Homo sapiens: one gene and its partners. The protein of the gene in region 3 purifies or fractionates together with the protein of the main gene of each other region. This does not show direct contact. Each region holds a gene or a part of one and is shown on either strand. Other genes may lie near its edges.

What was found.
Region 1: the proteins of ENTPD6 (region 3) and C1QTNF9 purify together in Homo sapiens (co-immunoprecipitation; one large-scale study listed by IntAct). This does not show direct contact.
Region 2: the proteins of ENTPD6 (region 3) and CELA3A purify together in Homo sapiens (co-immunoprecipitation; one large-scale study listed by IntAct). This does not show direct contact.

The regions. Positions count from the first base shown.
Region 1 is NC_000013.11:24,315,968-24,319,671, forward strand, and holds part of C1QTNF9 (complement C1q and tumor necrosis factor-related protein 9A precursor), read left to right. Parts: intron 1-14; 5' UTR 15-36; coding exon 37-202; intron 203-2,850; coding exon 2,851-2,913; intron 2,914-3,704. UniProt on the Homo sapiens protein: Probable adipokine. Activates AMPK, AKT, and p44/42 MAPK signaling pathways.
Region 2 is NC_000001.11:22,000,422-22,004,490, forward strand, and holds the start of CELA3A (chymotrypsin-like elastase family member 3A preproprotein), read left to right. Parts: upstream 1-1,235; 5' UTR 1,236-1,253; coding exon 1,254-1,296; intron 1,297-2,581; coding exon 2,582-2,667; intron 2,668-4,069. UniProt on the Homo sapiens protein: Efficient protease with alanine specificity but only little elastolytic activity.
Region 3 is NC_000020.11:25,219,568-25,223,271, reverse strand, and holds part of ENTPD6 (ectonucleoside triphosphate diphosphohydrolase 6), read right to left. Parts: intron 2,041-3,704; coding exon 1,939-2,040; intron 435-1,938; coding exon 294-434; intron 170-293; coding exon of another isoform or gene 150-169; exon of another isoform or gene 1-149. UniProt on the Homo sapiens protein: Catalyzes the hydrolysis of nucleoside triphosphates and diphosphates in a calcium- or magnesium-dependent manner.

The DNA of each region.
Region 1 (3,704 bases), on a different chromosome or scaffold from region 3:
TTTCCCTCTTTCAGTTCAGAGTCTGTCATCTGAACCATGAGGATCTGGTGGCTTCTGCTTGCCATTGAAATCTGCACAGGGAACATAAACTCACAGGACACCTGCAGGCAAGGGCACCCTGGAATCCCTGGGAACCCCGGTCACAATGGTCTGCCTGGAAGAGATGGACGAGACGGAGCGAAGGGTGACAAAGGCGATGCAGGTACTCACCTGACGGCTTCGGCTGCCTTTCAACTTCTCTCTTCATTCCTTTCATCTCATTCACTCATCATCTGTGTGATTTTCCACCTACCCACTCACACCCCATCCATCCATACATACATCAACCCAGCAACACTCACTGGAGCCTGACCCCATTCATCCATCCACCCATCTGCCCAGCAACACTCACGGGGTCTGCTCCATGCCAGACTCTGTGCCAGGTGCTGGTGGAGAGCACAGGGCAAGATCGCCATGACCCCTGCCCTCCTGGGTTCTCTCATCTCTGACACCGCAGAACATTTTCAGTAGTATACGATGTCATGGATCCTCCCATCTCAGGTGACAGGTATGATGGATTTTTGGCAACAAAAGGCTAATAGAGAGATCTGATCACGAATTATTTGGCAGCAAGCACCCAGCTGCAGTGCAGGTGAGAGCTAATACCGCATCATGCCATGAAGCAGGAGATGCGGAGTGACAGATGACACAAAAGGAGACGAGAATCTGAAACCATACAGCTGCTGCTTATGCATCTATATGACCTAGGTTGGGACCCTGTCCCAGGGTCTGGGGATCTGGGGGACAGGATTCAGCCTCTGGGAGGGAGATTTGCCAAAGCTGAGAAGTCCGAGTGGTTTCCATAACAACAACCAATAGACTTGGTTTCCGAATGGGGTACCATTCTTGAGGCCTGGTCTTGACCATAGGGTCACATATCTAAGGCATATGCAGAATGATCCATCTGGGTTAAGGGCACAGTTCAGTGGCATTACAAAAAAATATATCAAAACTTCTATGGACCTTTTTAAAGATAAGTTTGTGTTTCTAACACATCTCAGCTTATGGCATTTGGTGGCCTGATGATGTTTTGAGTGGGCTGGATGAAGCCAAGGGTCACCAGGAAGCAACATTCTTTCTAACCACCATCCTGCACATCTGCTCTGTGAGGTGTCTTCTCCTGGCTCACATCTCCAGCTCATTGACACTGTTCCAGTCCCCAGGTAGCAAACAGCCCAGTCCAAATGAATAGCAAAACCTTACCATTAATGAAATCAGGTCTTCTGCCCTCACACTGGGACCACAGTAGTGTGTGTGTGTGTGTGTGTGTGTGTGTGTATTGTATTTCTGAATATATAAGATTTTCATTTTTTGTTATAAAATTTTACACACAAAAGGAGATAAATAGGTGATAGATAAAAAATAGAGGACAAAGACAAACACTCCTATATTCAATACCAAATTTCTCTACCTCTTCCCTGTTGAATTTCTCTCCTCTTTTCTCACCAGTGTCCATTCTTTCAAGTTTTATATACTTCTTAGAAGCAAATTATGTATCTATTTTTCTACGTAGTTCATAGGTATTATATATAATATATATTACTTCTTAGAAGGATATTCATTCACATTGCTCACACTAAAAATTTACTTCATTTTTATCTTATCTTAAAGTGTATTTTTGTATATGTTTTATACCAAACATATTTTCCATATACTACCTGTGCATAATGTAGAAACATATAAATATCTACTGATTGGGGTCTGTGTTCATGCTTTGTGAGTTGTGGTTGCGTGATCATGAAAGCTCAGAGGCCACCGCTCTAGAGAATGGGAGAAACGAGAGCCAAGCAGGGAAACAAAAAGAGGGAAGGAGAGGAAGACACAGGGGAGCAGCCAGTGGAGGGGAGGGGAGGGGAGGGGAGCGCAGGGAGGGGCAAATGTAGGGATAAGCCCCCTCCATTCAGAGGTCCCACGCTGACCAAGGCCCCACTCAGGAGCGCTGGTGTCCCAGGAGAACAGACATCGTGACAGAAATAAGTCTGCCTGTGTCAGTCCTGTCTCAGGACCTGCAAGCCGGCCCAGCCTGCCCCTGTCGCCCCACAGCCACGTCAGTGGGTCTGAAGTATGGGAGTCTCTGCTGCTTTGTGAGAAGCCAGAGTCTGGGGTGAGCTGTGGCCCAATGAGCACTCTACTGCCATAGCCAGAGCCACCTTCAACCTGCTGACGGATAGCACGCCGACCTGGAGCTCAGGGGGGCCTGTTCTGAGCACAAGGACTTGAGTGTAGTCAGCAGAGCCCCACTCACCTGATGTTCTCTGCCAGCTTGATTGGTGGCATTTCCCCCAGTGTAAGGCACTAGAGGGATCCTTCCAGAACTCTCTCTTCTATCTTGGGATAGTGTCACGTAACCATAGTCATCTGTGTTTTCATAGGAGCCTAGTAAATCTTCCGTTCCACTCTCCTCAAGAGTAATGGAAGAGAAACAGAGTGAGGAAACCTCCTGGCACCTCCAACATTCAGACCACGTCCCAAGTCCTTGTCGCAGGAGAGGAACACAATCGTGACAGTCAGTCCCCATTGCACACACTCCCTCTTCGTCCTGTCTTGCTGTGCGCTCTAGGCACGTCCTAGAGATGGGCGCTTGGGAAGTCACTCAGTTCATTTCTTAGGTCACTTATCCCACGCAGCTCAGCACCCCAGATGCCCGCTCATGCCTGCCTCTCTCCACCTGCGCTTGTGTGGAGGACAGAGTGCCCGTCAGGGCGGGGGTCACCCCCAGACTCTCCAACACACATGGCTGATGGAGACCAATGGCCAGAAAAATCAGAAATGGAATTTCAACTCATGCCTGTTTTCTGCTTTTCCACCTAGGAGAACCAGGACGTCCTGGCAGCCCGGGGAAGGATGGGACGAGTGGAGAGAAGGGAGAACGAGGTTAGTAGTTCCTATTTATGGTGCTCTAATTCTGAGCTGTCGACTATTTAACAATATTACCATGGACAAGTCCTCCATGCTGATTATAATCTTACAATAAAGGCAACACAGTTCTTACTCTCCAGACGGGGGGATTCTGCAGGGATTGGCAGGCTTTGCAGAGGGCTGGGTAGTAAATATTCTCAACTCCGCAGGCCATACAGATCTGTCACCACTACTCAACTTCCCCTTGTAGTGAAAAGAAGCTGTAGATGCTCCATAAATAAGCATGGCTCTGTTCCAGTGACACCATATGTGTGAAGACTGAAATGGGAATTTCCCATGGTTTCCATGTATTGTGGAATATTATTTGTGACCATTTAAACATGCAAACCATGGCCGAGCACCATGGCCCACACCTGTAATCCCAACACTTTGGGAGGCCCAGGTAAGAGAATCGCTTGAACCTAGGAGTTCCAGACCACCCTGGGCAACATAGTAAGACTTTGTCTATACAAATAAAAAAAAAATTAGCTGGGCATTGTGGCACGTGCCTGTAGTCCCAGCTACCCAGGAGGCTGAGGTGGGAGGATCGCTTGAGCCTGGGAGGTTGGGGCTGCCATGAGCCATGATCTCGTCACTGCACTCCAGCCTGGGTAACAGAGTGGGTGACCCTGTCTCAAAGCAACAAAAAAACAAGCAGACAAACAAAACCCAGAAAAACAAAAAAACATGTAAACCATATTTGTTTAGCTTGCGGGAGGGAGGCTGAATTTGGCCTGTGGCTGTAGTTTGTTGAACCTTGAACCTTG
Region 2 (4,069 bases), on a different chromosome or scaffold from region 3:
CCACACCTCCTGGAGCACATGCCTAAGGTTTTCTCACGGTATAGACCTAGGAGGGAAACGGCTGGATCACCTGTGAATTCCACTTTCGGGGTCGCCTGCTCTTTGACCTCATCTCCCACCCCTCTCTACTTTGACTACCAAGCTCCTGTCACACTGGCCTCCCCTTCCTTGAACAAGTCAAGCCCATTGCAGCCTCCAGAACTTCGCACCTGCTGTCGCCTCCCTTCAGAGCGCGTTTCTTTCAGGGATTCCCGTGGCTGGCTTTTACTTATCCTCAGGACTCCATCAGATATGACCTCCTCAGCCCAAATGTCACTTTCTCTGTCCCCCCCATCTAAATGACTTACTCCCATTCCTACCCCAATCACCTATGTTTCATTTTCTTTTCTTCTCTGTTTTTTTTTTTGGTTTTGTTTTTGTTTTTTGAGACAGTGTTGCTCTGTGGCCCAGGCTGGAGTGCAGTGGCATGATCTCGGCTCTCTGTAGCCTCTGCCTCTCCGCTCCCAGGTTCAAGTGATTCTCCTCCCTCAGCCTCCCAGTAGCTAGGATTACAGGTGCTGGGATTACAGGTGCTCACCACCACACCTGGCTAATTTTTGTAGTTTTAGTAGAGATAGGGTTTCATCATGTCTCGAACTTCTGACCTCAAGTGATCCTCCCACCTTGGCCTCCCAAAGCGCTGGGATCACAGGTGTGAGCCACCGCTCCTGGCCTAGACTCAAACTCTAGAAGGGCTGAGACCATGCATTTTTCACAGCTGTATCCCCTAGAACAGTGCCTGATACATAGAGAAAAAGTGCTCAACAAGAATTTTTTTGTGGAGGTGGGTACTAATATAAATCTCATGTTAGAGAGCAGAAAACTGAGACTCAGAGAGGTTAAGCCATGCGCCCAAAGTCGCAGAGCTTGAAGGTGGCAGAACCAGGATTGAACCGTGGTCTGCCCGGTTCCAGTGCCCCTGTTCTTTCCGAAAGAGGAGGTCTTGTCCTGACATGAGCTTTTCTTCCTGAACTCTTGTTATCAGTTGGCCACTCCACACCACCTGTCCAGCCACCTGTTGGAGGGAACGCTAGGTCCTCCCTTTGGCTGTCACTTGTCCATCTGCAGCAGGCGAGGACTGTGGCCTTGGACCATGGGAGACCTGGAGTTCCACCACCTGTTCTGGGAGTGGGGCCCAATCAGCCCCCCTGCTTACCTTCTGCCCTATATTAGAGCCCCAGGCTCTGTGCCCTTTTCCTATCATCACAAAACTCATGATGCTCCGGCTGCTCAGTTCCCTCCTCCTTGTGGCCGTTGGTAAGACCCCAACCTGTCTGTGTGCTCCCTGGGCTGCCCTGGACTAGGAATCCTTGAAATCTACCACTCGCTCTGAGTCCCATGACATGCTATGCCTGGTTCCACAGGAGGGGGTCTCAGCTTGTACCCGGGGGCATGACTGTAGGGGCTTTCAGCTTATGATGGAGCAGGAGAGTGGAGGGGAAGCTGTGGATGGTGAAAGACCCCCAAAGGGCTGTGGTGGAAGTCCTTGATGGGGGCAGTAAACAAAGTCAAACGGTTAAGAGTTTGGACTGTGTGGTTGGACTTCTTGGGTTGGAATTTCCACAGTTCTACTTACCACTCCAACTCTCCTCTCACTCCCCCTACCTGGCTCCATATTCTATGCTCTGGCCTTTTCCTGGTCTCTCTGCCATATTACATTCCAGCTCAGGGCCACCTCTTCCAAACAGCCTCCCTTGACTGACAATAATGGTAACAGATAACATTGATTGAGTGCTTACTATGCCAGGCAGAATGTTTAGGGATTTTCTTATACTTTCTCATGTAATTCTCACAACAGCCTCAGGAGATCAGTACTATCATTATCCCCCATTTTACTGACCCTCAAGGAAGTAAAGTAGCTTATCATAGAACAAAAGGCAGAGCTGCACTTAATGTTTTTATTTTTTGCTTTTTTTTTGTAGAGATGGGGTCTTGCTTTGTTGCCCAGACTGGTCTCAAAATCCTGGCCTCAAGCAATCCTACCACCTTAGCCTCCTGAGTAGCTGAGATTATAGGCACATGCCACCATACCTGGCTACTTTATTTTATTGTACTTTATTTTTCTAGAGATGAGGTCTTGCTATGTTGCCCAGGCTGGTCTCAAACTCCCGGGCTCAAGCGATCCTCCCGCCTCGGCCTCTCAGAGCACTAGGATTACAGGTGTGAACCACCACACACAGCCCAGAGCTGCACTTTGAACCCAGGAAGTCCTTCTTTAAAGCCTCCACTCTGTATGACAATAGCTCTCACTTTTTGAGGGCTCATCGAGGGCCAGGCATTGTTCTAAGTGTATCAAGCTCTTCAATCCTCCCAATGAAGGAGGCCACATTTGAATCTCTATCCCTGGACTCCTGGGATTCTGGAAAGCCCTGCTCTAGTTTAAATGTTCACTGTTCATATGTGGTTACTGAGGTCCAGAGGGCGAAAGGGGCTTGCATGGGGTCACACAGCCAGTTGAAGGCATGGCTTGGACTGGGACCCTGGCCTCCTCTTTGCTTTTGGGGACCCTCCAGCTGATTGACAGCTCTCCTCTCCCCTCTAGCCTCAGGCTATGGCCCACCTTCCTCTCACTCTTCCAGCCGCGTTGTCCATGGTGAGGATGCGGTCCCCTACAGCTGGCCCTGGCAGGTAAGAGCAATAGCAGCTGCCCTCATTCCCACCGTGGGCTCTGGACCCTAAGCTCTAATGGCGTGGCATCCAGCCTTGACACCATTGCTCCCTTTGCAATGTCCACTTCAGCTTCCAAAGACCAGGCAGCCCTTGGACCATCTACTTCACGGGGAGGTTTTGCCCGTTTCATCTGTAACCCTCACTGGGCTATTTGCAACTTAAAATTGGAATCGGGGGTGAAGGAAATGCTAAACTCAAGGAGTTGGCACACTGATGGTGGAATTTCAGGCACTGTGTTGACGAAGTGAGATTTTGAGAGACTCATTTCTAGATTCCTAGGATGATACTACAGGGCTTTGAGGTCTGAAAGCAATAAGGGAGTGAGGGATCTTGTAAGGCCAGTGGAGGGAAGCTCAGAAGGCTGGACTTGATGTGCTGTGGCTATTTAAATTTAATTAAATTAGGCCAGGTGCGGTGGCTCACGCCTGTAATCCCAGCTACTCAGGAGGCTGAGGCAGGAGAATCCCTTGAACCTGGGAGTTGGAGGTTGCAGTGAGACAAGATTGCACCACTGCACTCCAGCCCCGGGCAACAGAGTGAGACTCTGTCTCAAAAAAAAAAATTAAATTAAATTATTATTACTATTATTATTGAGACAGAGTTTCACTCTTGTTGCCCAGGCTGAAGTGCAATGGCACAATCTTGGCTCACTGCAAACTCTGCCACCCGGGTTCAAGCAATTCTCCTACCTCACCTCCCAAGTAGCTGGGATTACAGGCACGCGCCACCAAGCCCGGCTAATTTTGTATTTTTAGTAGAGACAGGGTTTCACTGTGTTGGCCAGGCCAGTCTGGAGCTTCTGACCTCAGGTGATCCACCTGCCTCGGCCTCTCAAAGTGCTGGGATTACAGGTGTGAGTCACTGCACCCAGCTGAAATTTACTTACATTAAAAATGTTAACAATTCATTTCCTCAGTGCTTTTTTCTTTTCTTTTCTTTTCTTTGTTTTTTTTTTTTTTGAGACAGGGTCTTGCTGTGTTGCCCAGGCTGGAGTGCAGTGGTGTGATCTCAGCTTACTGCAGCCTTGACCTCCTAGGTCCAAGCAATAATCCCACCTCAGCCTCCTGTGTAGCTAGGACTACAGGCATGCGCCACCATGCCCAGCTAATTTTTATACATTGTTGTAGAGATGGGGTCTCACTATGTTGCCCAGGCTTGCCTCGAACTTCTGAGCTCCAGTGATCCTCCTGTCTTGACCTCCCACAGTGCTGGGATTATAGGCGTAAGCCACCATGCTTGGCCTGCTTGCCACATTTCAAATGTTCAATAGTCACATGTGGCTAGTGGCTACCATATTGGACAGCAAAGATATAGAACATTCCCATGATTATGGGAAGTTTTATCGGAGAGGGTCAGCAGG
Region 3 (3,704 bases):
AGAGTGGCTGAGTCTGAGACAACGTGGGCCAGTGCAAGGCAGGACCTGCCTTCCAGCAGGAACTGGAATCAACAGCAAGTCACCAGCCACGAGGTTTTACTGAAGGGCTCAAAGAACTGATCTTTTCCTACTCAGGATGAGACGCCTTCTCAAATCTGCTTCTGGCCTCCTGCAGGGATGTGACAACAGGGTTGCTTGCCTGCCACCAGCCCTCTGCCTCGGGGAGCACACGCCCTCCACCCCCGCCCCCTGCCGCCCCGACCTTCCTGCTCAGCCCATCCGGGCCCCCTTACCTATGAGGCCCACACCAGCTGCAAGGTCGTAATAGTAGGAGAAAGCATAGAAGTCCACATGCTTCACTTCCTCCGTCCTGTGCACTCTGTTTTGAAGGACCTCTGACACTCTGGCAGCACACAGCTCGTGCAGGCTTGCCGCTGGGGACAAGCACAAGGCTAGCGGTCAGTGGGCTCCGAGCACCCAGGCCTCACAGCTGCTTGGGGCCCCTCCCAGGGGACTTGAGACTCTGACCTGAATTGTCAGGAAAAGGCAGGTCCAGAAGCCTGTAAGACCCCACCCCAAGTTGGGGCTGCTCCCCGCACAGGTCAAAAGCAGCCCTCAGGAGCCAGGGCATTGTTGGTCCCGGCGCAGGGAGTGAAGACCGTGGGCACGAAGGCAGCGGCAGACCTGGACTCTGAGGAGGAAGCTGCTGATGCCTGACACCAGTGGCCTCTGGCCTGTTGGGACCATCTGCCCTACATTCCCCCTCCGCCAGCCCGGAGTCCCACCTCCTCAGGGGGCCTGCACCCTCCCTATGTCATAGATAAGGAAGTGGAGGCCCAGCTCACTTGCCAAGCTCCCATGGCTTGAGGGAGAACAGGAACAGAGGACCCCGGAGGCCAATGGACCGTGTGGACATCTGAGGGCGCCTCTACACCCCACACCTTGACCCAGCTTCCCGGCTTTCCCAGTCCTCCTCCACCAGGCCCCATCCTTCCGAGTGCTTCCAGGGTTCCCACGGTCCACAGACCCATGCTCCAACCCTTCGATCTCATTTCCTCCTGGTGTCCCCCACCAAGCCACACCACCTCCTCCTCGTTCATTAAACACAGCAGCTGACAGAGGGCCCCGGTGTGTGCTGCTTGTGCGGCCTGGGGTGCTGCTGCTTCAGATCTGCGCAGTTTCTTGAAACCTCCTCCTGTCTTAGATCCCATGTTACCCCACGAGGCCGTCCTTGGCTGTCCTAGTTACAGCTGCGATCGCCCTCTCAGATCCCCGCCCCGTGTTATTTCTCTTGGAAGGCTTTCCCGATGAGCTTCACTGTCTGGCTCCTCCTGTGGGACACAGCTGTGCAGTCCTGCTGTGCCTGATGCGGCCCCCCGGTACACGCACCAGTGGGTGATTGACTTGGAAGGACCTGAACGGTTCGCGAAGGCATGCACCCCTCATGCCGAGTGCCCAGTCTGGGAATGGCGTTTGAACATTTCTCTCAGAAGAAACTGCAAGGGTGCAGAGCACTAGAGCCTGCCCAGGGCCAGCGGGCTCCATAGCCTCGAGCAGGATGGGTGGAAGCAGACCCTCCCTCTATTCCCGCCCAGCACAGCACAGAGTGCCTGGGCTCCCAGTCCCAGCCCTGCATCTCAGCCCCAAGCTGGTCCAGTCCTTCCTCCCTGCAGGCCTGTTAGGAAATCAGCCCTCAGGAGGAAGCTTCTGGTGACAGTCAGGGGAATGTTGAACAGAGGCAGAGGGAAGGAGCTGGCTCTCAGCACAGACACAGGCCCCTGCAGCCAAACCACCTTCACTTCCAGGGCAGGTACAGGCTCTTCAAAGAGAGGTCAGGAGCCTCCCGTGGAACGTCCCATGGGATGTGGGAAAGGCAAGGGGGAGAGGAGGCCACCACTCTCACCCGCAGAAACCAACAGGCAGCAACCCTCCCCGTACCTGCTTTCTGCCCTGAAACCCTGTACGTGACTTCTGCGTGTTCCCACTCTCCTTTGAAACTGGGAGACAAGCAAGGGCTGACCAACTCCTTTCCATCCTTAGCTGAAACAGAGATTAAAAAGGAAAGAGAAAGGAAGGTATATCACCGCCATGGACTAGGGCTGAGCTAGGAGTCGCGGAGGCCCTGGCTTGACACAGGATGGGGGAAGCTGAGTGGCTTCCAGGTCCACTGGGAAGGCAACACCTCCCTGGGAAGTGGCAGCAAAGCCTCGTTGGCCAGGAAGCACACCGCTACCAGGACCATGCCCAGCTCACGGCCCTGGGCACGCCGGGTGCCAGGCACTGGGCCAAGGGCTGTTCAGTGAAGTGTGACGACAGTCCTTTTAGGAGGGGAGCCATCATTACCCAGTTTTATAGGTGACTGAGGCTGTGAGTAGCTGGTAGGTTGGTGGCAGGGCCAGAACAAGTGCCACCAGGTGCCACCATGCCTTGAATGGAATCTGCTGCTCCAATACACACAAGCTGGGGGCTCAAAACCAGCAAAGGAAGCGTATTGGTCCCAGGGCTGGCCCCAGTATCACCTTTCGAGGATGGCAGGCTGCTGTCCCACCGAAAGGTGCTGGTCCCATCCCTGGACTCTGGCCTGGACCTGCTTTCCTTGATGGAATGGGCAGGAAATGGTGGCATCAGGGTAGCCTTCCTTTTTTGAAGCCACCACAAAAGTGTCCCAGGCTGCTCTGCTGGGGCGAGGCCATGTGGAAGAGCGCCCAGGTCTAGACAGCCGCCCAGCGACAGGCACGTGCACAGACCCTCAGGACCCCAGCGGGGGATTTAGACAGCTGCCACAGCCACAGGCATGTGCACAGACCCCCAGGACCCCAGCAGGGAGTCTAGACAGCTGCCCCAGCCATATGCACCTGCACAGACCCCCAGAACCCCAGCAGGGGGCGTCTAGACAGCTGCCACAGCCACATGCACCTGCACAGAACCCCAGGACCCCAGCGGGAGGGTCTAGACAGCTGCCACAGCCACATGCAGCTGCACAGATCCCCAGGACCCCAGCGGAGGTGCTGCCCAGATGAGCCTGTGTGGTCTGCTGTGAGATTCCAGCCGCGACTGCTGTTTGCTGTTCTTTCACTCTACTTGGGGGGTCTGTTACGCAATAACCGGTAACAAAACAGAGACTCATTCTCCTGGGTCCTCACAGCCCCCAAATGTCTAAAACAGGCACTTTGTACAGCCTGACGAGGAGACCATGAGACCTTCTTGCTGCTCTGCTGGGTGTGAGAGGACTCAGGGTCTGAGCCACGACTCCCTGGGAACCACAAAGGGCAAAGAGGTACCTGCCTTTTCTCATTGGCTAAATAATAGGTGTTTTTTGGCCCCAGAATAAGGGCTGCAGCTGTTTCTGAGACATAGACATGGTTTTTGTTTGCAACAAAAGGAATACCATTATGAAGATAAACACCAGGATTTGAAAGAAAGAACTGAAGTAGGGCATGCACAGGAGAATGAAAATTCCAGTTGAACATCCTACCCTGTCAGATACCAGGCCCTCGGAAGAAGTGGGCAGGGGTGCTGGGCCAATGGGGCGCTGGGGGCTGAGGTAAGGGCATTTGGCTGGAGCACACGTAGGTGCTGGTGAGCGCCTCATACACACATCAGACACTAAGGCCTTGGGAAGGCCTCTGTGGCCTGGCCAGTTCCATCAGGGAAGAGAGGCACCACCAGCCTCAGGGCCGTGCCCCAGCCCCTGAAGCAGACCA